Regions from separate parts of the Homo sapiens genome. Here region 2 is linked to region 1. The links come from fine-mapping of genetic effects on gene expression. A gene starts in region 1. The other region holds a variant in brackets. All regions are shown on one strand. Distances are from middle to middle. Region 1 holds the start of PLGRKT (plasminogen receptor with a C-terminal lysine). Region 2 has its middle 43 kb from the start of IL33.

The links. PIP is the estimated chance that this variant, and not a neighbour inherited with it, causes the effect.
Region 2: its variant is fine-mapped to the expression of PLGRKT in gastroesophageal junction (GTEx, PIP 0.97).

The regions. Positions count from the first base shown.
Region 1 is chr9:5,430,749-5,443,591 of GRCh38, forward strand. PLGRKT (plasminogen receptor with a C-terminal lysine) reads right to left here and starts at 7,177. Exons shown (of 6, transcript NM_018465.4): 1 at 7,041-7,177; 2 at 5,821-5,946; 3 at 1,149-1,235. The coding sequence starts at 1,229. RefSeq lists enhancers at 6,479-7,678, 6,734-6,823, 8,384-8,543.
Region 2 is chr9:6,166,117-6,178,959 of GRCh38, forward strand. No RefSeq gene overlaps it. Among named protein-coding and RNA genes, the nearest start is that of IL33, 43 kb to the right of the region's middle. RefSeq lists an enhancer at 423-924. The variant T/C (reference allele first, on the strand shown) is at 4,798.

The sequences.
Region 1 (12,843 bases):
CTCCCAGAGCCATAATGGGCCACAGAGGCCTAGACATCTTTGTCTGAAATCTTAGGAAAATAATTCGGGTCAAACTTTTAAGACTTGATTTTTTGACTTGCAACATTTTAAAATGTTTTTTACAACCTGTATTAGGCAATTAGATAATCTTCTGCAGTGCTTTGATCTTTTCTATCCAGCCACGTCTAAATCCAATGTTAAGGTTTCACACTCCATGTTAGTTTCCTATTGCTGCAGTAACAAATTATACGAAGTCTGTGGCTTAAAACAACACCAATCTATTATCTTACAGTTCTAAGTTCAGAAGTCCAAAATGGGCTGGCAGGACTGCATCCCTGTAGAGGCTCTAAAGAATAATCTGTTTCCGTGCCTTTTCCAGCCTCTAGGGGCTTCCTGAATTCCTTGACTCATGATCCTTAAACAATCTTCAAAGCCAGCAGTGTAGCATCTTCAAATCTCTCTTATACTGACTCTCATGCTTCCTTCTTTCTCTTATAAAGACCCTTGTGGGCCAGGCACACATACCTGTAATTCCAGCAATTTGGGAGGCTGAGGCCAGTAGATCATTTGAGGCCAGGAGTTCGAGACCAGCCTGGCCAACATGGTGAAACCTTGTCTCTATTAAAAATACAAAAATTAGCCGGGAGTGGTGGTGCATGCCTGCAATCCCAGCTACTAGGGAGGCTGAGGCACAAGAATCGCTTGAACCCAGGAGGCAGAGGTTGCAGTGAGCCCAGATCATACCACTGCACTCCAGGCTGGGCAACACAGTGAGACTCTCTCAAAAAAAAAAAAAAAAAAAAAAAGACAGACCCTTGTGATGACAATGAGTCCATCTGCATAATCCAGGATAATCTCCCCATCTCAAACATTATCTTTGGGGGTGGGGGGCATTATTCTATGTACCACATACTCTAAGCAGTTATCTCTTCCTACAGAATGGAAATTTTTACACAAATTTATCTGGATTGGAGATTTAAATTAGCCCATTCACCAGATAATTAGTAAGCCATTTTATCTTGGTTTTAAGGATGCAGCCCAAAGAACATTTTATTGTTGGGAGTCAAAGAGAATGTACGGCTGGAGTACATGTGGTAGAAACTTTAAGCATTGTAACAACATAATAGCTTAATTATTTTAAAACATACCTGAAGTCGAGCATTCATAAGCATGAACTCCTTTTGATTTTTCATGCTTTCATTCATAGATTTTGAAAATATAAACCCCATTTTGACCTAAAATGTAAAAAAAGCAAGGAGACTTATAATAATACACTACATGCATTCTTGTATGCTCCACTTTGAGCTACCTTGGGCTTATGACAAAGTAAAAAAAAAAAGTAAAATTTCTGATCTAGGAACACAGTGTGGATTCTAGTTCTTGCTCCTAACTAGCTGCCTGACCTCAGGCATACTTAACGAGTCTGGCCATCATTTTACTCACCTAACACCAACTGATTGAACTAGATAATTTCCAAAATCCTTCCCTGCTCTATAAGTATATGGCTGTTTCCTGATTTTTCTTCCCACCATAAATCTTGAAGAACTGAATTCTTGAAGAAAAAAACAACTCTCTTTTTTTGTGAGGGGAAGGGTGGATACCATCCATCTTCTTACCTCTGTACAATTAGGCAACAGAACCTTTGCATCTGAGGAGGGATGATTAAGAAGATGCCTTGTGCGTCTTAAGAACATATTTCTTTGTGCTCTTTGCATTTGCGTTTTAAGAAGATTGAGCTCTCCCTCTCCCTCCCCCTCCCCCTCCCTCTTTCTACGGTCTCCCTCTCTTGCGGAGCCTGGACTGTACCGCCATGATCTCGGCTCGCTGCAACCTCCCTGCCTCTGGCTCCGGTGATTCTCCTGTCTCGGCCTGCCGAGTGCCAGGGATTCCAGGCACGCGCCACCACTCCTGACTGGTTTTTGTATTTTTGGTGGAGACGGGGTTTTGCCGTGTTGACTGGGCTGGTCTCGAGCTCCTGGCCTCGGGTGATCTGCCCGCCTCGGCCTCCCGAGGTGCTGGGATTGCAGACGGAGTCTCGCTCATTCAGTGCTCAATGTTGCCCAGGCTGGAGTGCAGTGGCGTGATCTCGGCTGGCTACAACCTCCACCTCCCAGCCGCCTGCCTTGGCCTCCCAAAGTGCTAAGATTACAGCCTCTGCCCGCCCGCCACTCCGTCTAGGAAGTGAGCAGCGTCTCTGCCTGGCCGCCCTGTCTGGGAGGTGAGGAGCATCTCTGCCCGGCCGCCACCCCGTCTAGGAAGTGAGGAGCGTCTCTGCCTGGCCGCCCATCGTCTGGGATGTGAGGAGGGCCTCTGCCCGGCCGCCCCGTCTGGGAGGAAGTGAGGAGCGCCTCTGCCCAGCCACCCCGTCTGGGAAGAAGTGAGGAGCGCTTCTGCCTGGCCGCCCCCTCTGGGAAGTGAGGAGTGCCTCTGCCCGGCCGCCACCCCGTCTAGGAAGTGAGGAGCATCTCTGCCTGGCCGCCCATCGTCTGGGATGTGAGGAGCCCCTCTGCCTGGCCACCCCGTCTAGGAAGTAAGGAGTGTCTCTGCCTGACCGCCCGTTGTCTGGGATGTGAGGAGCATCTCTTCCTGACCGCCCATCGTCTGGGGTGTGAGGAGCATCTCTGCCTGACCGTCCACCGTCTGGGATGTGAGGAGCGCCTCTGCCTGGCTGCCCCATCTGGGAAGTGAGGAGTGCCTCTGCCCGGCCGCCACCCCGTCTAGGAAGCAAGGAGCGACTCTGCCTGACCACCCATCGTCTGGGATGTGAGGAGCGCCTTTGCCCGGCCGCCCCGTCTGGGATGTGAGGAGTGCCTCTGCCCGGCTGCCCCGTCTGGGAAGTGAGGAGCGTCTCTGCCTGAGCGCCCATCGTCTGGGATGTGAGGAGCGCCTTGGCCCGGCCGCCCCGTCTGGGATGTGAGGAGTGCCTCTGCCCGGCTGCCCCGTCTGGGAAGTGAGGAGCGTCTCTGCCTGAGCACCCATCGTCTGGGATGTGAGGAGCGCCTTTGCCCGGCTGCCCCGTCTGGGATGTGAGGAGTGCCTCTGCCTGGCTGCCCCGTCTGGGAAGTGAGGAGCGTCTCTGCCTGAGCGCCCATCATCTGGGATGTGAGGAGCGCCTTTGCCCGGCCGCCCCGTCTGGGATGTGAGGAGCGCCTCTGCCCGGCTGCCCCATCTGGGAATTGAGGAGCACCTCTGCCCGGCCGCCCCGTCTGGGAGGAAGTGAGGAGCGCCTCTGCCCGGCTGCCCCGTCTGGGAGGAAGTGAGGAGCGCCTCTGCCCCGTTGCCCCAAATGGGAAGTGAGGAGCGCCTCTGCCCGGCCGCCCCATCTGGGAAGTGAGGAGTGCCTCTGCCCGGCTGCCACCCTGTCTGGGAGGTCAGGGGCGTCTCTGCCCCGCCGCCACCCCGTCTGGGAAGTGAGGAGCGCCTCTGCCCGGCCGCCACCCCGTCTGGGAGGTGAGGGGTGTCTCTGCCCAGCCATCCCGCCTGGGAAGTGAGGGGCGCCTCTGCCCGGCCGCCCTTCGTCTGGGAGGTGGGGAGCGCCTCTGCCCGGCCGCCCCGTCTGGGAAGTGGGCGCCTCTGCCTGGCCACCCCGTCTGGGAGGTGAGGAGCACCTCTGCCCGGCCGCCCCATTTGGGAGGTGAGGGGCGTCTCTGCCTGGCCGCCACCCCGTCTGGGAAGTGAGGAGCACCTCTGCCCGGCCGCCGCCCCGTCTGGGAGGTGAGGGGTGTCTCTGCCCGGCTGCCCCGCCTGGGAAGTGAGGGGCACCTCTGCCCGGCTGCTCTTTGTCTGGGAGGTGGGGAGCGCCTCTGCCCAGCCGCCCCGTCTGGGAAGTGGGCGCCTCTGCCTGGCCGCCCCCTCTGGGAGGTGGGGAGCGCCTCTGCCTGGCCACCCATCATCTGGGATGTGAGGAGCACCGCTGCCCGGCCGCCACCCCGTCTGGGAAGTGAGGTGTGCCTCTGCCTGGCCGCTCCGTCTGGGAAGTGAGGAGCGCCTCTGCCCGGCCGCCCTGTCTGGGAAGTGAGGTGTGCCTCTGCCTGGCCGCCCCATCTGGGAAGTGTACCCAACAGCTCCGAAGAGACAGCGACCATCGAGAACGGGCCATGATGACGATGGCGGTTTTGTCGAAAAGAAAAGGGGGAAATGTGGGGAAAAGAAAGAGAGATCAGATTGTTACTGTGTCTGTGTAGAAAGAAGTAGACATAGGAGACTCCATTTTGTTCTGTACTAAGAAAAATTCTTCTGCCTTGGGATGCTGTTAATCTATAACCTTACCCCCAACCCCCTGCTCTCTGAAACATGTGCTGTGTCAACTCAGGGTTAAATGGATTAAGGGTGGTGCAAGATGTGCTTTGTTAAACAGATGCTTGAAGACAGCATGCTCGTTAAGAGTCACCACCACTCCCTAATCTCAAGTACCCAGGGACACAAACAGGGCCAAAGGCCGCAGGGACCTCTGCCTAGGAAAACCAGAGACCTTTGTTCTTGTGTTTATCTGCTGACCTTCTCTCCACTATTATCCTATGACCCTGCCACATCCCCCTCTCTAAGAAACACCCAAGAATGATCAATAAATACTAAAAAAAAAAAAAAAAAGAAGAAGATTGAGCTGTCTCAAGGTCAGTAGACCAGTTATTCTTCCTGTCATCCCACCACAATCCCTGTCCCTCTCCTACATGCCCCTTATTTCCATCCACCCACTGCTAACTGCCTTAGCCATCCTCCTCCAGCTTCACTCTCATTCTCTCCAAGATAGCATGTACTAAAGTTCTCAAAAATGGAAAAACATACAGATACTTGAATGTCCTGGAAAATGTACTTTTTAGATGAATGCACAGTAGTGTCTATCTTATGTAAGTTTTTAAGTGGGCTGTCAACTCTACAAGGGACAGAACTCCAATTTTTATTCTTAATCCAACTGGGTGGGTACAGAAGACCTTGAGTTAGTTGGTTGCATTTCAGAATACTGCAAAACTCAGGGGAAAGTTACAACTGCTCTACCCTTCTCAACAATGTTGCTGATACCTTTTCTCTTTAATAGGCTGTTGAGTAGGGTTGTGAACCTCAGGTAAGAATGGCCAGTCTTAATTCATTACAGCCAGGATTCCCAAGTATTCTGTGGGAAGCCCAGCTAATGGGGTTCCAGGTGAGTGGGAGCTGCAAGCAAGACTTCAGTGACTTCCTTGTATTCTGATCAAGGATACACCTGGAGTTTCAGGGCTCTGTGCCAGAGTCAGCTTCAAAGCTGAGCACAGGATACCAAACCACTTACCAGGATGAAGAGGCACAATGCTGAAAAGGCCTGAGGTGGTGAGATTTCCCTCCCCTTCTGCCACTGTGCCACTCGAGCACCCTGTGACCAGAGTTAGAGGCCACTCACTGACAGCAGGGTGATTTGGCAGTTCTTTCCTTTCTCCAAACCCTAACAGTCCCATGCGACTCATCTCTAACAGCAGACCAGAACCTGCCTGAGGTTAGGAGCGAGATATTATCCATCTTGATAGTCTCCATGGTGTCTACTTCCCCTAAATATTTGCACAAAGCATGAGAGATACAAGAAAAACTGTGGCTCAGGCCACTTGCCATTACTTATTTTTCTTCTGAACATAGGAGTGGATGACTAAATTTTTACACCTGCTGCAAACATTTATAAAGAAAACAACTGTACTCTAGTACTATTCCTCCACATACCCTGTATATCACAGAGCTGTGTGCTTTCAAGTGCTCCTGTTTGTAAGGGGTTAGGATCTCCCCTGAAAAGAGAGAGTCCTCATGTCAATCATCTGGGAAAGAAACACTGTCTGGGAAGTTAGTATTTAGATTTACCTCTTTCTGGGCCTTGCTCTCCTGGGTCTGGACTTGTAGTCTGAATGTGTTAGAGGACGCTCCCAGGTGGAAGGGTTAAAGGTGGAAGCCAAGCAGGAAGAAGAGCTTCCTTATGGGAAACCACACCTGAGAATAAATAAATGCATCACACCTTGTAAATTTCACCCTGGAGTTCAGTATTTTCAACATTCTTTCCTTTCCCAACTTCCCCATTCCTGGCAAAGTCATTTCCCAAAGTCTGGGAATATTCCGTAGGGTGTCCAGAACACTTTCAGCTATCTCCTCTTGCTCACAAAATATGTATCAGAAAATAAGCAAAATTGACCTTGCAATAGGGATAACTTTGATTTCACTCACTTGTATAAGTTAAGTCTTTTAAAAATTCTAACACTTTTCACCAGGGGTAAAAAAAAATGTCTTGCTACTTATACAATTTTAAACATCACTGTGTCTCAGAGTGATGTTTTGCAGAGAATGCTGATTTCAATCCCTCTGTCTTCATTTTCCCTTTGATTCCTTCTGAGATCTTGGAAGGGGTCTTTAATGCTTCAGCCCTGCCTCAGGTGAGCTATAGATTACTATGGGAAGGTGTATTTCTGGGGAGGAGAAGTGGTGCCTGCAAGTTCCAGACAACCTTTCTTCCGGTCACCCGTGAGTACCTAGATTTGATTTTACTTGGGGGGACATAAAAAATTAATTGCATGAATTCTGTCATCGGGATTACCACGCTGACTTATTTCCCGATCAGATGACACATTGCCTGAATGTATGACTGATCGTCTCACCACAGTCATTTTCAATATTTGCATCCCATTGAAATTAAGCCACATCCCCTTGCAAATTCCAGCCCAGAGCCCACAGCTTCCGGAGGTTTTCTGTAATTAACACCGCCCTTGCTCCCTGAGGCCAGTTACTGTAATTTAGGTATTCCCCGCAATAGTGTGCTGATTTCTGTTGAGAGCACTGTGCCTGTTTTTCTCAACTCTATTTTAAAGCTACGGAGAGATCCGGAGTCCACGCCAGGCGACAAGAACGCGCTCTAATGGAACGAAGTTGGCAATACCTATCAGCACCAGGGGCAGTGCGAGAGCCAAGAGCCGGCGCTCACGAGGAGCGGGCGCCCAGCGCTGCCTGGCAAGCCCGGAGCCCAGGAGATCGCGCTGACTGACATGGCCGGGCTGACCCTTCTCCCCACCCGCCTGCGGCCGGTGTTCACTCACTGGGCGGCGCTGGTGCCGGGACCAGGCGACCGGTACGCAAACCTCCAGGCCCGGGCTCCTTTCGCCCGCTGCAGGGACCGGGCCTCGCTCCGCCCAGCGTCGGGATTGGCGCCCAGACACAGTAGATGACGCACCTCAGCCAATTCGCGCAGCCCTCAGCTTCTTTAAAGAGCCGGCACTTCCGCCAGAAGCCGGGTGTGTCCTTCCGGGCCAGGCTCAGTGTTACCAGAGGTGGGAGGGGAAGGTCAAAAGAGGCAAATTCAAAGCCGCGGCGACTCAGCTGCCAGATTTTTGAGATGAGGCAGAGGAAGCGGAGTGGAATTCTCAATTAAAGGCCTCTGTCCCCTCATCTGTTAAATTGGCACTATTAAAAAGTCATAAAGATAAGACAGAAACGAGAAAGAAGAGAATTGACTGAAATTACCCATTCTTTTTTGAACAGAGCCGTCTTTCTCCCCTGCTGCTCAGAGAGATGTCGGTCTCGCCTCAACCTCACCAGCAATTTCTATCTTGAATAAGCCACGTCTCTCTCCCAGCCTGAGAGAATGCTTGAATTGTTGGCACTCTGTTCTTTGCTACCAAATGGCTTGGAAAAATAGCATGAACGTCACCAGTCTCTGGCCTTCAGGAAAGTCCCTGCTAACCACCACAGCGGTGGAGAAGGCGTCTAACTTTCTCCAGGCTCAGCGTGTGAGTGCACACCGCCCTGACCTCCTGGGCGCGTCTTGATGCTCTCAACAGCAGCCCTCAGGATTCTGGACTGTGGGTCCCACATTCCAGATACCATTTGTGGAATGGCTGGATGAGAAAATTGCAACAGCACCCTCATTTCCAGTTAAGGGAATGGGCGGGTTACCAGGAGGTTTGACACTCTTGAAGGGAGGTTAACAACTGATGCAAGAAGTAAGGAATCGTGTTTGAGTGCACAGACTCTAGCATAAACACACCTACCTTCAATTTCTAGCTCTGTCACTGTCACTCTGAATTTATCACCTCTGCAACAGGACTAAAGCCATCTAATTTATTGGATTGTGAGGACTAAAAGATAATATATGTGGGCATTTAGCACAGTGTCGGGCACATAGTTCGCCTTCCGTAACCAGTAGTAACCAGTAACAGCGGGGAGCTGTTAGTAACTATAGGGCTGAGGGGTGGGGGAAGGAAGCAGTTACTAAAACCAGGCGAGAGCGAGAGCGGTAGCTGTGGCTGTACGAGAGAGTAACCAACTGGAACCGTGTCGTTCAGTAGAGGAAAGCAAGCAATGCCAACTTTTCACCAAGTAAGGTGAGATTCTATAGTTGTAGCCAGTGCTGAGACGTCAGCCCAAAGCAGGGACAGAGTGGAGAAGACCCACCTCTCTGTTCTCCCAGCTCTGATATCCAGCTGGGGTCTTCCGCTGGCTGGATCCACCAGGAAGCCAGAAGACAGTGGAGCTAGGTCTGTGTAGTCTGTAGAGGTCAGCCTACTAGGCACAATGCCTGGAGGGAGAAATAGAAAATATCCAGCACACCATTTCTTTTTTTTGTTTGTTTTTACACTTTAAGCTCTAGGGTACATGTGCACAACGTGCAGGTTTGTTACCTATGTATACATGTGCCGTGTTGGTGTGTTGCACCCATTAAGTTGTCATTTACATTAGGTGTATCTCCTAATGCTATCCCTCCCCCCTCCCCCCACCCCACAACAGGCCCCGGTGTGTGATGTCCCCCTTCCTGTGTCCAAGTGTTCTCATTGTTCAATTCCCACCTATGAGTGAGAACATGCGGTGTTTGGTTTTTTGTCCTTGCGATAGTTTGCTGAGAATGATGGTTTCCAGCTTCATCCACGTCCCTACAAAGGACATGAACTCATCATTTTTTATGGCTGCATAGTATTCCAGCACACCATTTCTACAACCTTGGGTTTATTGTGTTTGGAAGCCTAGATCCAAAGGAAGGAATGCTGCCACTAGAAGACCCCGTCACTGAATTGAATTGAATTTCAATTCATTGATTCGAAAGCTGAAACTGCCCTCTGGTCACTTTGATTCCTCACAGTGACAGAATGGTATGATTCATCCCAAATACCAAAAGGAAATTGGGTTACATCTATATATTGAGGGCAAGAAGAACTATGCATGACACCTGGAGATTCACTGGGCACTTCTTAATACTGCCGTGTGCCATAATAATGATTATCAGATAACTGAAGTAATGCAGAAATTTCAGATCATGAAGAAATTAAAGTGTTGAAGCATACCAGATAAAAAAATCCTGATCTACCTAGGTGTTGGCATAGGGCAGGGGAAACATACATAAGTAAATGAGTAGGAAGCTATGATTATTAATTTTAGCCTTGCAACAAGCTCTAGAGGCAGGAATTATAGTAGCTCTCCATTTAAAATGTTAATTACTTCTTCCCTGACTCTCTTTTCCTATTACCCTGCATAAAGAGTAGTGGTGGAGATAAATATTACAATTTAGTTTCTGGGTGAGAATGTGCCTGAACTGACATCCCCTCAAGGCAATATGGCAGCTGATGAGGCTTGTTAAGGAAAATCAAAGCTGGACAATAGCTGTAGCAGTAAAAATAGATTTTTATTCAGCAACTTTTGAAATAGGGGGAAAGAGACCTTGGTAAAGAACTGGGCTCAATTCTGAATACAGTAAGGATAAGTGGGGATTTATAGCCGAGGAGCAGGTTGTGTGGATGGGGGTGGGGTCCGTGGATGGAAAATTACTAAGAAGAGACAGCAAGGGTAGGGGAAATCCTTGCTAAACTGACCTAACAGGATTCTTGCTAAAGGTAGGCCAGGGTAAGCAGACATCACCTGGGGGCTGGTGGGGGTAAGGAATTTGATCAGATATTGAGAGTGGTCAAACATTCAGGGTGGGAAGATCCTCTCTAAACTGACTTAGCAGGATTCTTGCCAACACTGATTCTGCAAGGATGAACACTGCAGCCCAAGGTCAATATCTAATCAAGGAGATGGCTTAGAGGAGCCTGACTAAAGTTTGGTCGAGGAGAAATCTTGTCAGACTCTGTCATTCTCATATGTAAGGGATGAGCTGCTCTTCATCTGAGCAAAGGAAAAGAATAAATTCTGGGTGACAAAACAATTAGACTGTCTAGGTTTTCTGTTTGCCTTCCATCATATTCATTCTCCTCACTTCCCTGCCCTGTTCTATACCCCAAAGCTGACCTCTTTGGACGGCACCACCTGGGCTCTCCTCAGCTGGTTTCCATTTGAGTTTGGACAGCGGGAGGCATTCAGGGAGATGGGAGGCAGGAGGAAAAAGACATCAGGGTATATTTTCTCTGTTCTTTCTCTGTTTGGGGCTGAGTATCTGGTGGTGGTTGTGTTTCTCCACAATTGCAGCTCTTGGCAAGCAGTCCCTTCTCCATGGCTCCAGCTCCATGGGCTCTGGAAACACTTTTCTCCTTTGCTATGTAGCCTAGAGAGAGCGCAGTCTTCCTGCTGTTGCTAGACTCTGGATGACTCAACTGGATGGTTCTCTTAGTCATACTCCTTTAAGTAGTGTCTTCACTAATATCTCTTTAATCAAACCAACTGAGTAAAATTCTGATTCCTGATGGATACATGTTAAACCGAAAACACACATTATAAATTTTCTTGTATGTATGATGTTTTTCATAATTTTAAAACATAAGTGAAAAAAGTGACCATAGAAAAATATGCCCAGGAAATTGAAAAAAAAAGTCTTGGTATAGATATTGGACACATTTTATAAAATGTGGAGTAAGAGGGTTAAAGGAAATTTATTTCAGAATCAAATGGCATATAACTTTAACTGGTATGTGAATTATTTTCAGTTGTATGAATTTGTGAATATATATGTGTACATTTTTATGCATATATATAAATATGTGTTTTATATCATCTTGCATTATAACATAAGGATTTTTATGTTGCTACATTGCATTTATATTTACCATTTTTAACAGCTAAAGGATTTTCAATAAGTGTGTATGTAACAACTTCCATTGCTGGATATTTCTCAGTATATATATGTATATATACATATGTGTGTATACATATATATATACATATGTGTATATATACATATGTATGTATATGTATATGTACGTATGTATGTGTATATATACATACATGTGTGTATACGCATATATACATATGTGTATATATACACGTATATACATGTGTGTATATATACACGTATATACGTGTGTATATACACACGTATATACATGTGTGTATATACATGTGTGTATATACACACGTATATACGTGTGTATATACACACGTATATACATGTGTGTATATACACACGTATATACATGTGTGTATATATACGTGTGTATATATATAAACACATATATATATGCACATGCATATGTATACACTGAGTTAAGTAGTATAAATATTTTAGAGAAAATTGATGTAAAATCCTCAACTCATTTGATGCTCCCTATCCCAGGACAGTAAAAATTGCCCAATATTTCCTTGGACCTCCATAAAGAAGCAGTTTTTCAAAAAATAAAGTGTTTGGAAGTTTAAGATGTGCCTAGCAGTGTCTCCTTTTAACAGAGATGCTTTCACAAGGATTTGAATTTCCCCATTGAGCTGGGAACCAGGTTTAGCCAAGAACTTCGGTCTGTGAAGGACTGCAAATAGTTGCACAGTGTGGGGCTGAGGCTAGAACCTCCTTAATATTAAACCATTCTGGGATGGTGCTCCCCAAATTCTGGATTTTAACCTTCACTCCAATCCTGGGGCACCTCTGTAGCTTGGGCATGACCTGGACACAAGCTTTGTGTAAGCCTTCTTTGGACTTCATCCATTCCTCAACGGTGACACCATGTGGCAGTGTAATATAATGGCATCAGTGGACTCAGATCCTGTTCTCTCCCTACCTAGAGATTTTTAAGATTAAGATATGTAATTCACAACCATAAAATGTACCACCTTAAATTGTACAATTTATTGGTTTTTCATACATTCAAAAAGTTGTACAACCACCACCATTATCTAATTCCATAACATTTTCTTCACCCTAGAAAGAAACCTCATACCTATTAGCAGCCACTCCCCAAACTCCCCATTCTCCCCATTCCCCCAGTTTCTGGGGACCCCTAACCTACTTTTTGTTTTTATAGATTTGCCTATTCTGGACATTTTATATAAATGGAAGCCTACAATCTATGGCCTTTTGTGTCTGGCTCCTTTTACTTAGTATGATCAAGGTTCATCCAAGTTGTAGCATGTACCAGTACTTCATTTCTTTTTATGTCTGATTAATGTTCCAATGTATGGATATACCACATTTTGTTTATCCATTCAAAATTGTGGGGCATTTGGATTGTTCCCATTTTTTTTGCTGTCATAAATAATGCTGCTAAGTTTTTGTATGAACGTATGTTTTCAATTCTCTTGGGTATATATGTAAAAGCAGAATTGCTGGGTCATATGGTAACTCTGCATTTAACTTTTTGGAGTTGAACAAATACACCATGCCAGCAGTGAATAAGGATGCTGATTTCACTATACCTTTGCACAATAGTTAAGAGCATAAACACTGGAACCAGATGTCTGGGTTCGAATCCCAGCTGTGCTATCTCCTAGCTGTGTCGTTTAGACAAGTTACTAAAGCTCTGTGCCTCAGTGTCCACATCTCTAAAATAGAGGCAATAATAGTACCTTCCTTACAGGATTGTTGTAAGATTTAAATGAGCTAATATGTGTAAATCACAAAAATAGGGTCTGACATTTTTTAAATGGTATATGTTTTACCATTGCTGCTATTTTAATCTTTATTATAATTATTGTGTTTTGTTTTGTTAA
Region 2 (12,843 bases), 740 kb after region 1:
TTGACTGAAATTGATATCTGGAAGTATCCTGCCACTTGGACCTTTCTCTATTAGTCTTGGAGTGATATGAAAAGAATATTATTTCAAGTATTGCCGGGGTAGGATTCAGTGAGGCAATAAATCACATGCACAAAAGGTATTTTTCTTTGTGAAGAATAAGAATGTGAGCTACCAGATCAAAACTGACTTGGAAGGCAGAATTTTAACACTTTTTTTTTTTTTTTTTGCAAACTAAGTGAAAAAGACACATTTGGAAAGTGATCACATGCTGTTAGTGAGCAACTTAATCAGTTTTGTTCTGAGTTTGAGGGTAATTAACTAATAAGAAATCATGGTTCAAAACAATAAAACTTTAACACACAACATGAACATGTTCAAAGATGGTCATGAATGTCCATATTTGTGAACATAGAAATGTTTAGGCAGGTACCTGACCTTCCCTCAAATCATAGATCCCACTGAGAGTCTCCTGTTTTCTGTGCATATTCTCAAGCCACAGGTGTTAACTCCCTTTCAACTTCTACTAAAGTTTTCCCGTCCTCTGATAGCCATTTTTCACATGTGAAAACTCGTTTCCATCTTTCACAAATGTAATATGCTACAGTGAGTGAAATTCAGCAAAGGCAAGACGAGACACAGCTGAGCGGTCAGAGAGGCATGCTCTTTGTCAAAGTAACTCCAGCTTTAAAATAACTCTCATTCAGGATCACTTGAGCCCAGGAGTGAGCTAAAGTGATTCAAGTGGCCTCACAATCTGTTCAACAAATATTTTGGCATTACAAAAAGAACCTTTTCAAATTTATTTTTTAGTTTCCTTGGCAAACGGGTTAACCAAAAGGATCTTCTGTAAGTGGACAAGGATTGAGAAAACTAAGGAATTTGATCCATTGAACCTATTGTCACGGAAATGCAGTGGTTTTGTATGGACCTAAATAATTTGGGCAACATAGCGAGACCTTGTCTCCACAAAAGAAAAATTGAGGCCAGGCGCGGTGGCTCACGCCTGTAATCCCAGCACTTTGGGAGGCCGAGGCAAGCAGATCACAAGGTCAGGAGATCAAGACCATCCTGGCTAACACGGTGAAACCCCGTCTCTACTAAAAAATACAAAAAATTAGCCGGGCTTGGTGGCGGGCGCCTGTAGTCCCAGCTACTTGGGAGGCTGAGGCAGGAGAATGGCGTGAACCCGGGAGGCGGAGCTTGCAGGGAGCCGAGATCGCACCACTGCACTCCAGCCTGGGCGACAGAGCAAGACTCTGTCTCAAAAAAAAAAAAGAAAAATTGAAAAATGAGCCAGGCATCATGGCATGTATCTGTGGTCTCAGCTATTTGGGAGGCTGAGGCAGGAGGATTGCTTCAAGCCCAGGAAGTTGAGCCTGCAGTGAGCCATGATTGCACCACTGCACTCCAGCTTGGGCAACAGAGTGAGAGCCTGACTCCAAAAAATTAAAGAAAATATATGTAAATAAGTGAAACAATAAATAAAAAATACTCAAACACACATGATGGGAAGGTATGATCTCGAATACACATGATGGGAAGGTGTGATCACTTGCAAAGAGTTATCATTGAAAAAGTTAAATTCATAAAAGCTAAGTGTCTACTGCAGCAAAAATTACATATCAAGTGAGAACGTAATTGTTTAAAAGTGCCTGAGACAGGTGCAGTGGCACATGTCTGTATTACCAGCTACTTGGAGAGCTGAGATGGGAAGATTGCTTGGGCCCAGAAGGTGGAGACTACCCTGGGCAAGATAGTAAGATCCTGTCTCTAAAAGGAAATAAAAGTGGCTGAAAGAAAAAAAAACTTGCTGAACATTCTTGTGAACATCCTTGTGTTCCAGTGCCCCAACTGCAGTCCATACTATAGAACTGTTCAGAGCCTAGAAGCTGCTGGAGCCAGAGGGTGGAGATGAGCCATAGGAGAAAACTGACCAGAGCTGCTAGAAGAAATAAACAACAATTTGACCTAATAACAAGAGCACTTAAAGAGATATAAATATAGCAAAATCAAAATATACTGGGGGGCTAACAAGCCATTATTTATGAACCTCCCTTCCCACCCAAGTCACCTCCTTTATGTGTGGTAGGATGTCCCCAGTCTAAGATTTAATCTATGTTCAACGTTCCAGGTTCTGTTTTGGGATTTCCGTAAAAACTAACCCTTTTCTCACCATGGACTTTCAAAAGCCTGGTTTTAAACTCAGAGCTGAGCAATTTCTTTCTGCCTAGACAGTATCTGCCTTTCCTTCTCTAGGGCAATAAACCTCAGCCTCAGAGGCTAATCTTCCTGTCAGAGGGGTTATGAGAAGAATCCATTATCAAGAAAAGAAAATACTTCAAGTGGTATTTTGACATGATACCAGGACACAAGAAATGATTATACCCAATTCCCAGATAAAATTATATTATGAGCACCTCCTCAAATTTGCATTCTCTGGGACCTAGGGATACGTCCTTTAAAGGTGCATCAGGAGGGAACATGTCAGAGCTCAATGCTCTTCCTTTCCTAAGTCAAGTGCATGAGACCCCACACTCCTTCTGATTGTATGGCCTTGAACTCAGGAACTGTGCATCATTTTTCTTTGTATCCTCTGTGCTTTAAGCAGCACAGTGCACATTGCAGTTGTTTAGGTCCATATAGAACCACTGCATTTCTGCCACAATAGGTTCAATGGATCTAATTATTTAGTTTTCTCAATCCTTGTCCACCCACAGAAGATCCTTTTGGTTAACCACTTTGTCAAGAAAACTAAAAAATAAACTTGAAAAAGTTCTTTTTGTAATGCCAAAATATTTGTTGAACATATTGTAAGGCCACTTGAATCACATTAGCTCACTAAAACGTCTATCGCAAAGTCACAGTCTTATGTTACTGAATTCTTAGAATTCTTATTCTCCTCTAATCCCACAGAAACAAAAATTGCTTAAAGTTCAATCTATCTTTAAAGAAAAATATTAAAATTTGTAATGTCTGTGGATAACTAGGAGGCAAGAAAGTTGAAAACTGAAATCCTGCGTCATATATCACTAGTAGGTCTTACCTCTCATTGTTTTTTGACATAAAGCAATTATTGGATAATTCAGCTTGGTAGAGAGGCTGAATTGTGATATTTGGGGTGTCATAAAAGGCAGTATTTGCAAGATCAAGTGGGAGACATAATACACAGAGTAAAAAATATACAGGGATAGGAACTGTAAGGGAAAAAAACCCAAGAGACTACAGGCTAAATAAACCTAACCCATGGATAACTGAAGTTCTAGAACGAGAAATAAAAACAGATAGAGACAAGGTAATAATACTAAACTATTAGAAGAAAATTTTCCTGAAATTAAGAAAATTTTAAATCTGCAGTTTGAAGTATTCAAGTTATGTATAGGAATGCTGGAAAAATAAAAAGCCTGATAAAATTTCTAAACTTTTAGGATAAATTTTAAAACTTCCAGACAGAAAGAATCTATGCTATTATATTAATAAAGATGCTTTCTGGTGGTGAGTATCAGAAACATCAAAGTGACTTTAAAAATAAGGAAACTGTATATATACATATCTCATATACACACACGTGCACACGTACACACACAAAGCCCAGGGGTAAAACCACTCTAGAGTTAGTTAATTCAGTGGCCTAACTGCACCAGTAAAGACAGACCAGGTTTTTTTCAAACTAATAATTCTGCTTTATCCTCAGACTACCTTCTTTCATGGCAAAAATTACAGCATCACAATGTCCAAAAGCAGCAAACGAATTGTCTCTCCTCTTGTCTTAGTGGCAGTAGCTGTTGATTACCTATCCAAGATCCACCATCTTAGTGGCAGTAGCTTAGTGGCAGTAGTTGTTGATTACCTATCCAAGATCCACCATCCTCTTCTTCTTCACTAAAAGAACCTTGATTTTGTGCCCAGCTAAACACACTTTCTAAGACTTCTTTTTGGTCAAGGGTGACCATGTGATATAATTTTGGACTATAAGATGTAAGCAGAAAGAAGTTTGTGTGATGGTTAGTTTTATGTGTCAACTTGACTGGACCATGGGGTCCCCAGATGTTTGTTTAAACATTATTCTGAGTGTATCTTCAAGGGTGTTTATGGATGAGATTAACATTTTAATCTGTAAAGCAAATTGCTTGCCATAATGTGGCTGGGCCTTATTCTATCAGGCCTAAATAGAACAAAAAGTCTGACTCTTCCCTGAGTAAGAGAGAATTTTCCAGCAGATGGCCTTTGGACTTCATCAGAAATATCAGCTCTTCCTGACTGATGACCTTTAAAGTGGGACATCAGCTATCCTTGAGTCCCCAGTCTGCCAACCCATTCTGCAGATTGGACTTGCCAGCTTTCATAATACTGTGAACCATTCCTTATTTATATTTATTCATCATATATATGTACACACACATATATGTAAATATATATATTTACATTATATTCCATATATATATTCTGTTTCTCTGAAGAACCCTGACCAATCTAATATATTTTGCTAAATGGTTTCTGGGAAACCATAAGCTTTCTTGATATGAAAGGACAGTAGCATGTGGTACAGACATTATCCTACCTATTTTTCCTTCTTCTTGCTTTGAAGTGATGACTGGAGCTAGAACTGCAGCAGCCATCTTGCAACTATGAGGGAAAGGTCAAAGAAACTAGAGATGTATATGCCCTGATATCAGAAATGCAACATCAGCAACTGCCTGCCTCTGGGCTTTTTGCTATCTGAGAAAACTATCCCCCAATTTTTAAAGGTCATTTTTGTTTTATGTTATTTTGAATTGAAAACTTTCCTAATTGATAGAG[T/C]AGTGATCTCAAATGCTAGAAAACTTTTCTAAAAAATATTTCTTACTAGACTTTCCTTGATGTATCATTGACTAGAGCAGAGTCACATGCTCACTCCTAAGCTAATTAGAAGTAAATGACCTTTTCATGATTGACTTAAACAAATCAAAATCTACAATTCCAGAACAAGAAATGGGATAAATACCATGGAGAATAGGATAATACCTGAGAAAATCAGTGCTGATGTTAGGAAGCCAGTAGATGTTGAGTGGGTAACCAAGTGTGTCTGCCACACTTACAAAGGAAAAAGAATCAGATAGGCATCAAACTTCCTGAATACATACTAAAATCTAAAAATGAATTACGTTATTTCTATAGGCTACCTCCAAAAGTGAGCTGAAACCCAAAAATTCACTGTCTAGCCCTGTCAGGATAAAAATATATATTTGCAGAAACTCAGGAATTCAGAGAACATTAATCACATACTTCATGTGAGAAAAACACTGCTAAACTACAAATGTTAGGACAGAGATTTCAAAATGAGGGGAGAGGAGAAGTAATAAGCAATACATCTGGCTCTATATGTAGAAAAATATAAGTGAATAGTGGCAGAGTGACCAAGAAATTATAATTTTAATTCTAAATAAGGATTTTTAAAACAAAAACTACATATTGCAAGGAAAAATATAAGAATCTTTGGGTCTTAGAGTACTAAATATTTCAATACTTGGATCTTAAAATATGATTTTAAAAACTCTAGGATTTGATAGTAGTGGGTGGAAAACAGATTATGGGAAATGAAAGCATTCTAACAACAAATTAATTAGTTACAGTTTGTTTTCTTTTCTGTGTGGCTTGTTTTCTTTTCTTTACAGCTGGTTTTCATTTCCTTTCAAATTTAAAAGAGTGTATTTAACATTCCATCTTAAGGCAATGTGATAACCATGAATTCTTTGTGTGAGAAAGGAAAGAGGGAGGTTAATTTTTAATGAAAGTCGATAGTGTAGAGGAAAGAGGGTCTTCCCTGGCATCCTTCAGCCATTTACAACATTTTACAAAACAATGCAGGTAAGGGAAAAGCTTTCACCCATAACTAGAGGAAAAAAGGTTCTAGCTGCCTAGGTTACAGCAGCCTGTGATGTGACTCAAGCCTCATAATTCACATTTTTTAAGGCTCACAATAATTTAGAGTTCCAACAGCTTTGACTTTGAATTACTTATTTTCACAATAACACAAACAAAACTTGATATAATAAATGCATATATCCTTAGAATTGACAATATATATTTTATATGACCATGATTTGTACAAAAATTGTATTTGCTGCAAAAAACATTAAAATATAAAACAGTAAAGATTTTTAAAACCACAAACTCTGATCCTCATCCAATAAAATCAGAAATATATCATATAAAAATGAAGTGACAAGAGGGCAGAATAGAAGGTAACCCGCTCATATCTCCCTATAAGAATTCTGCATCCATCCATGGTAAAAAGTCACTCTGCAGGAGCCTCAGGATTGAGGTAGGAGTTTGTGAAACCCTAGTGAAGTCCAAGACATCAGAGGATCATTTGCAGAGGGAAGACCTACACATAGGTGGCTGATCCACCAAGCTTGTTCCTGGGTTCAAGCCAGAAAATGACCCAGTCTCCCAAGGGGTTTGGATACAACCCCACTTGGCCTTGATCCTGCAACCAAAGCCATCTGCCGAGGAGTCAAGAAGGAATTGTGCACACTAATAGAAAGGCTCATCTACCCACTGACAGTCGTGTTGGCAGTCAATCTGAACGTTGCTCTCTGGTTCTGCTCCAGCCCCCTCAGGTGAGGTCCCAGCTCAGAGCTGCTTACATAAGGATCCAGAGGGAGACTTGCCCATAACTTGCAGCCCAGTAGTCTGAGCCTCTCAGACAGGCTAGAGCTTGTAAACCTCTGTTCCACAACAGATACCAAGGAGGCCCAGTCTCAGCTCTGGCCTCTCACACTGCAACCAAGGAACTATTCCATCTTTACAGAAACTTGCTGGGAGAATGTGTCTCTCTGAGCCAATGAGACAGGGCTCTCCAGGTTCTGCCCCACAGCAGATGTCAAGGGGGCCCCATCTCAGCAACACTCCATCCTGCTGCAGTTGGGGAACTATCCCATCTATGCTGATACCTGCTTGGAGATGTATACCTGTTTAAGCCAATGAGAAGGGCTCTTCAGCTTGTCCCACAGCAGATCCTGAGGGGCCCTAGTAACCGCTCTGACTCCCCCTGCTGCACAGAACTATCCCATCTATCCAGAGACCTACTAGAAGATGCGTACCCATATAAACCACTGGGATAAGCATGCCAGTGTCTGTCTCACAGCAGGTCCCTTGGAGGTCCAGCCTCAGCTTTGGTCTTTCCTGCTGCAGTCGAAGAACTACCCTGCTTGTGCAGGGTACTGCTGGGTGACATATATCTGTCTGAGCCAACAAAATAGGCCCATCAGCTTCCTTCCCATAACAGATCCTGAGAGGGACCAATTTCAACTCCAGCCTCCCTTGCTGCAGGTGGGGACCCATCCCACATGTGCAGAAACCTGCTGAGAGGCATGCACAGGTGGGATGGGTCCCCAACTGGGGATAGCCATCCATCTTGGCCACCAGGACAGTCTTCTGGATTCAGGTCCCTGTCCAGCATTCCCACACAGCCCAAGTACCCTCCTTGAGTCTTCCCCTGATCCTTCTGGGCTGGAAAGCTGTGCCAATCTCATAGTCCTCATGAGACTTGCAGCAAGCCTGTACTTAGAGCATCTTCTACTGCTGAGATGGCTGCAGAGGTCAGAGGCTCAGAGAAAACAATAGTCAGACTGTATAGAATCCCTACAAGGATAAGCACAAAGAAAGCTAGACTACAAAGACTAAAATATTAAATAAATACTTAACCTATCAATACGCAGACATCATTTCATGTTCACAGCATTAAAAACACACACGGAAATATGACTCTTCATATGGAAAAACTAAGGTGCCAGAGGCTGACCCTAAAGGGATAGAGATATGCACTTTCTTAGACAAATAATACAAAATAGCTGTTTTAAGAAGCTTGATTGACTTCTACAAAATACACATAATCAATTCAGAAATGTATCAGAGAAATTTAACAGAGATTAAAATAATTAAAAAAAAAAAAACCCAGAAATCCTGGAGCTGAAAAATACAATGAATGAAAGGAAAAATGCAATAGATCAGCAGAACTGATCAAGCTGAACAATCAGTGAGCTTGAAAACAGAATATTTGAAAATATACAGTCAGAGGAGAAAAAAGAATGAAAAGTATAAAGAAAGCTTACAGGAATGACAGGACAACAATAAAAGAGCAATCATTCATGTTACTTAGTTAAAGAGGGAAATGAGAAAGACAAGAAGGTAGAAAGCTTTTTCAAAGAAATAATAACATAAACCTTCCAAACCTGGAGAAAGATATAAATATCCAGGTACAGGAAGGTCAAGGGTCACCAATCACTTTCAACCCATATAAGAATACCCTTAGGTATTACAATCAAACTCTCAAAGATCAAAGACAAAGAAGCGATTATGAAAGCAATGAGAAAAAAGAAGCAAATAACAGATAAGGTAGATCTGAAATGCCTGGCAGCAGACTTCTCAGTAGAAACTGTACAGGCCAGGAGAGGTGAGATGATATATTCAGAGTGCTGAAAGAAGTAAACTGCAAAGCAAGAATACTGTTTCCAGTAAAGCTATTCTTCAGAAACGAAGGAGAGATAAAGGCTTTCCTAGACAAACAAAAGCTGAGGGAATTTGTTGCTACCAGACCTGTCCTACAAGAAATGCTAACGAGAGTTCTTTAGGCCAAAAGAAAAGGATACCAATGTGATTGTTACACTAATATTGTAATTGTGGTGTGTAAATCAATTAAATCTTTACTAAGAAGACTAAAAGATAAAACTACTAAAAACAATAACTACAACAATTTATTAAGAGATTAGCAATATAAAAATGTAAATTGCAGTATCAAAAATTCAAAATGTGTGAGGAGAGGGGAATTAATATGTATAAGGTTTTATTTTGTTAGTTTGTTTCTTTTTGTTTTTTTGTGATCAAAGCTAAGTTGGAATCAGTTTTAAGTAACTTGTTATAACTATAGAATTTTTTGTAATCTTCATATTAACCACCAAACAAAAACTTATGATAGATATACTGAAAATAAAAAGCAATGAATTAAAACATACTACCAGAGAAAATCACTTAACCACAAAGGAAGACAGTGAGAAAGGACGGAACTGGAGGCCTTTGGTAAGCCAGGCACAGAAAGACAAATATCGCATGTTCTCATTCATATGTGGGAGCTGAAAAAGTGGATCTCATGGAGATAGAGATTAAAATGGTGCTTACCAGAGGATGTAAAAGAAAGGCGAGGGAGGTAGGGATGAAGAGAAGTTGGTTAAAGGATACAAAAACATAGAAGGAATAGGTTCTAGTATTTGATGTATAGTAGGGAAATTATAGTTAACAATAACTTATTGTATATTTCAAAGTAGCTGGAAGAGAAGATTTGTAATGCTCCCAACAGAAAGAAAAGATACATGTTTGAAGTGATGGCCATCCTGATTACCCTGATTTTCTCATTACACATTATATGCAGGTATCAAAATATTGCATGTACAACTATTAAATATCAATTTTTTAAAAATTTAAAAATCAAAAACACTTTTCAAAAAGAAACCTGTAAGTCCTAATGATGGTGGAGTAACCATAACACTCCTATACTGCCTATAGGAGTATAGAAAGAAAGAAAAATGAAAGTACACATGAAAGAAAAATAAATTTCTATTTGGATAAAAGAAATAGATAATATAAATAAATACGATCTTAAAAATTAGAAAAAGCAATCAAAAACCCAAACTAAGAAAATAAAAGCTAAAATTGATGAAATAGAAATTTTTTTACATGGAAGAAGAATGCATCAACTGAAAAACTATTCCTTTGAGAGGACCAATAAAAACAACAAGCTTCATGAGCCTGATTATGGCAAAAATAAAATATGCCCACAAGAAAAAATATACATGATTAGGAATGAAAAATGATAACTATCAAAGAAAGAGATTTTTTAAAAAATTGTAAGAGCCAGGTATGATGGCTCATGCCTGTAATCCCAGCACTTTGGGAGGCCAAGGCAGGAGGATGGCTTGGGGCCAGGAGTTCAAATAGCCTGTGCACCATGGTGAGACCCTGTCTCCCACAAAAAAACTAAAAAACTAGCCAGGCATGGTGGCTCATACCTGTAGACCTAGCTACTCAGGAGCCTGAGGCAGGATAATTGCTTGAGCCCAGGAGGTTGAAGATGCAGTGAGCTATAATTGTGCCACTGTACTCTAGCCTGGGTAGTAGAGTGAGACCCTGTCACAGAAAAAAAAAAAAAAAAATATATATATATATATATATATGTATATGAATATTATATGCACATCTGTCAAAACAAATTTGAGAACCAGGAGGAAATTGCTGATTTCCTAGCAAAATACAAATGTCTAAAATTGACCTAAGAAATAGAAAACATTAAAAGGCCAATTTCCATAGAATAGATTTGAAAGGTGATAAACCATAGCTGTCCAAAGATGTCTGTGTTCTAACCCCTGAATATGTGAATAAAGTATGTTATTTTATATGGCAAAAGGAACTTTACAGTTGTGATTATGTTAAGGATCTAGACATAGAGAAAGTACCTTGCATTAATTCCAGGTGGCCCCAATGATGTAATTGCAAGGGTCTTTATAAGAGGGAGTGTGGTAGGCTGAATAATGGCCCCCAAATATATCGAAGTCTTGATCCCTGGATCCTATGAATATTACCTTATATGGCAAAGGGATTTTGCAGGTGTGATTAAATTAGTAATTTTTTTTAGATGAAGAGATTATCCTGTATTAGCTGGGTGGGCCCTAAATATAATCACAAGTGTGCTTGTAAGAAGGAGAAAGAGGGAGATTTGACCACAGTAGAGGGTGATGCCATCATGGAAGCAGAGAGAGATTTGAAGACGTTATACTGCTACCTTTGAAAATGAAGGAAAGTGCAATGAGACATGTAATGCAAATGGCCCCTAAAAGCTGGAAAAGGCAAGGAAACGGATTCTCCTCCAGAGCCTTCAGAGGGAGTGCAGTCCTGCTGACACCTTGACTTTAGCCCAGTGAAGCTGATTTTGTACTTATGACCTCTATAACTATAAGAGAATAAATTTGTGTTGTCTTAAGCCCCTAAATTTGTGGTAATTTGCTACAGTAGAAATAGGAAACTAACACAGGTGAATTTTTCTTTAATTTTTTAATTTTTTATTTTTTATTATTATACTTTAAGTTTTAGGGTACATGTGCACAATGTGCAGGTTAGTTACATATGTATACATGTGCCATGTTGGTGCGCTGCACCCACTAACTCCTCATCTAGCATTAGGTATATCTCCCAATGCTAACCCTCCCCCCTCCCCCCAACCCACAACAGTCCCCAGAGTGTGATATTCCCCTTCCTGTGTCCATGTGTTCTCATTGTTCAATTCCCACCTATGAGTGAGAATATGCGGTGTTTGGTTTTTTGTTCTTGCCATAGTTTACTGAGAATGTTGATTTCCAATTTCATCCATGTCCCTACAAAGGACATGAACTCATCATTTTTTATGGCTGCATAGTATTCCATGGTGTATATGTGCCACATTTTCTTAATCCAGTCTATCATTGTTGGACATTTGGGTTGATTCCAACTCTTTGCTATTGTGAATAATGCCGCAATAAACGTACGTGTGCACGTGTCTTTATAGCAGCATGATTTATAGTCCTTTGGGTATATACCCAGTAATGGGAATGGCTGGGTCAAATGGTATTTCTAGTTCTAGATCCCTGAGGAATTGCCACACTGACTTCCACAGTGGTTGAACTAGTTTACAGTCCCACCAACAGTGTAAAAGTGTACCTATTTCTCCACATCCTCTCCAGCACCTGTTGTTTCCTGACTTTTTAATGATTGCCATTCTAACTGGTGTGAGATGGTATCTCATTGTGGTTTTGATTTGCATTTCTCTGATGGCCAGTGATGGTGAGCATTTTTTCATGTGTTTTTTGGCTGCATAAATGTCTTCTTTTGAGAAGTGTCTGTTCATGTCCTTCGCCCACTTTTTGATGGGGTTGTTTGTTTTTTTCTTGTAAATTTGTTGGAGTTCATTGTAGATTCTGGATATTAGCCCTTTGTCAGATGAGTAGGTTGTGAAAATTGTCTCCCATTTTGTGGGTTGCCTGTTTACTCTGATGGTAGTTTCTTTTGCTGTGCAGAAGCTCTTTAGTTGAATTAGATCCCATTTGTCAATTTTGGCTTTTGTTGCCATTGCTTTTGGTGTTTTAGACATGAAGTCCTTGCCCATGCCTATGTCCTGAATGGTAATGCCTAGGTTTTCTTCTAGGGTTTTTATGGTTTTAGGTCGAACATTTAAGTCTTTAATCCATCTTGAATTGATTTTTGTATAAGGTGTAAGGAAGGGATCCAGTTTCAGCTTTCTACATATGGCTAGCCAGTTTTCCCAGCACCATTTATTAAATAGGGAATCCTTTCCCCATTGCTCGTTTTTCTCAGGTTTGTCAAAGATCAGATAGTTGTAGATATGCGGCATTATTTCTGAGGGCTCTGTTCTGTTCCTTTGATCCATACCTCTGTTTTGGTACCAGTACCATGCTGTTTTGGTTACTGTAGCCTTGTAGTATAGTTTGAAGTCAGGTAGCGTGATGCCTCCAGCTTTGTTCTTTTGGCTTAGGATTGACTTGGCGATGCAGGCTCTTTTTTGTTTCCATATGAACTTTAAAGTAGTTTTTTCCAATTCTGTGAAGAAAGGCATTGGTAGCTTGATGGGGATGGCATTGAATCTGTAAATTACTTTGGGCAGTATGGCCATTTTCACGATATTGATTCTTCCTACCCATGAGCATGGAATGTTCTTCCATTTGTTTGTATCCTCTTTTATTTCATTGAGCAGTGGTTTGTAGTTCTCCTTGAAGAGGTCCTTCACATCACTTGTAAGTTTGATTCCTAGGTATTTTATTT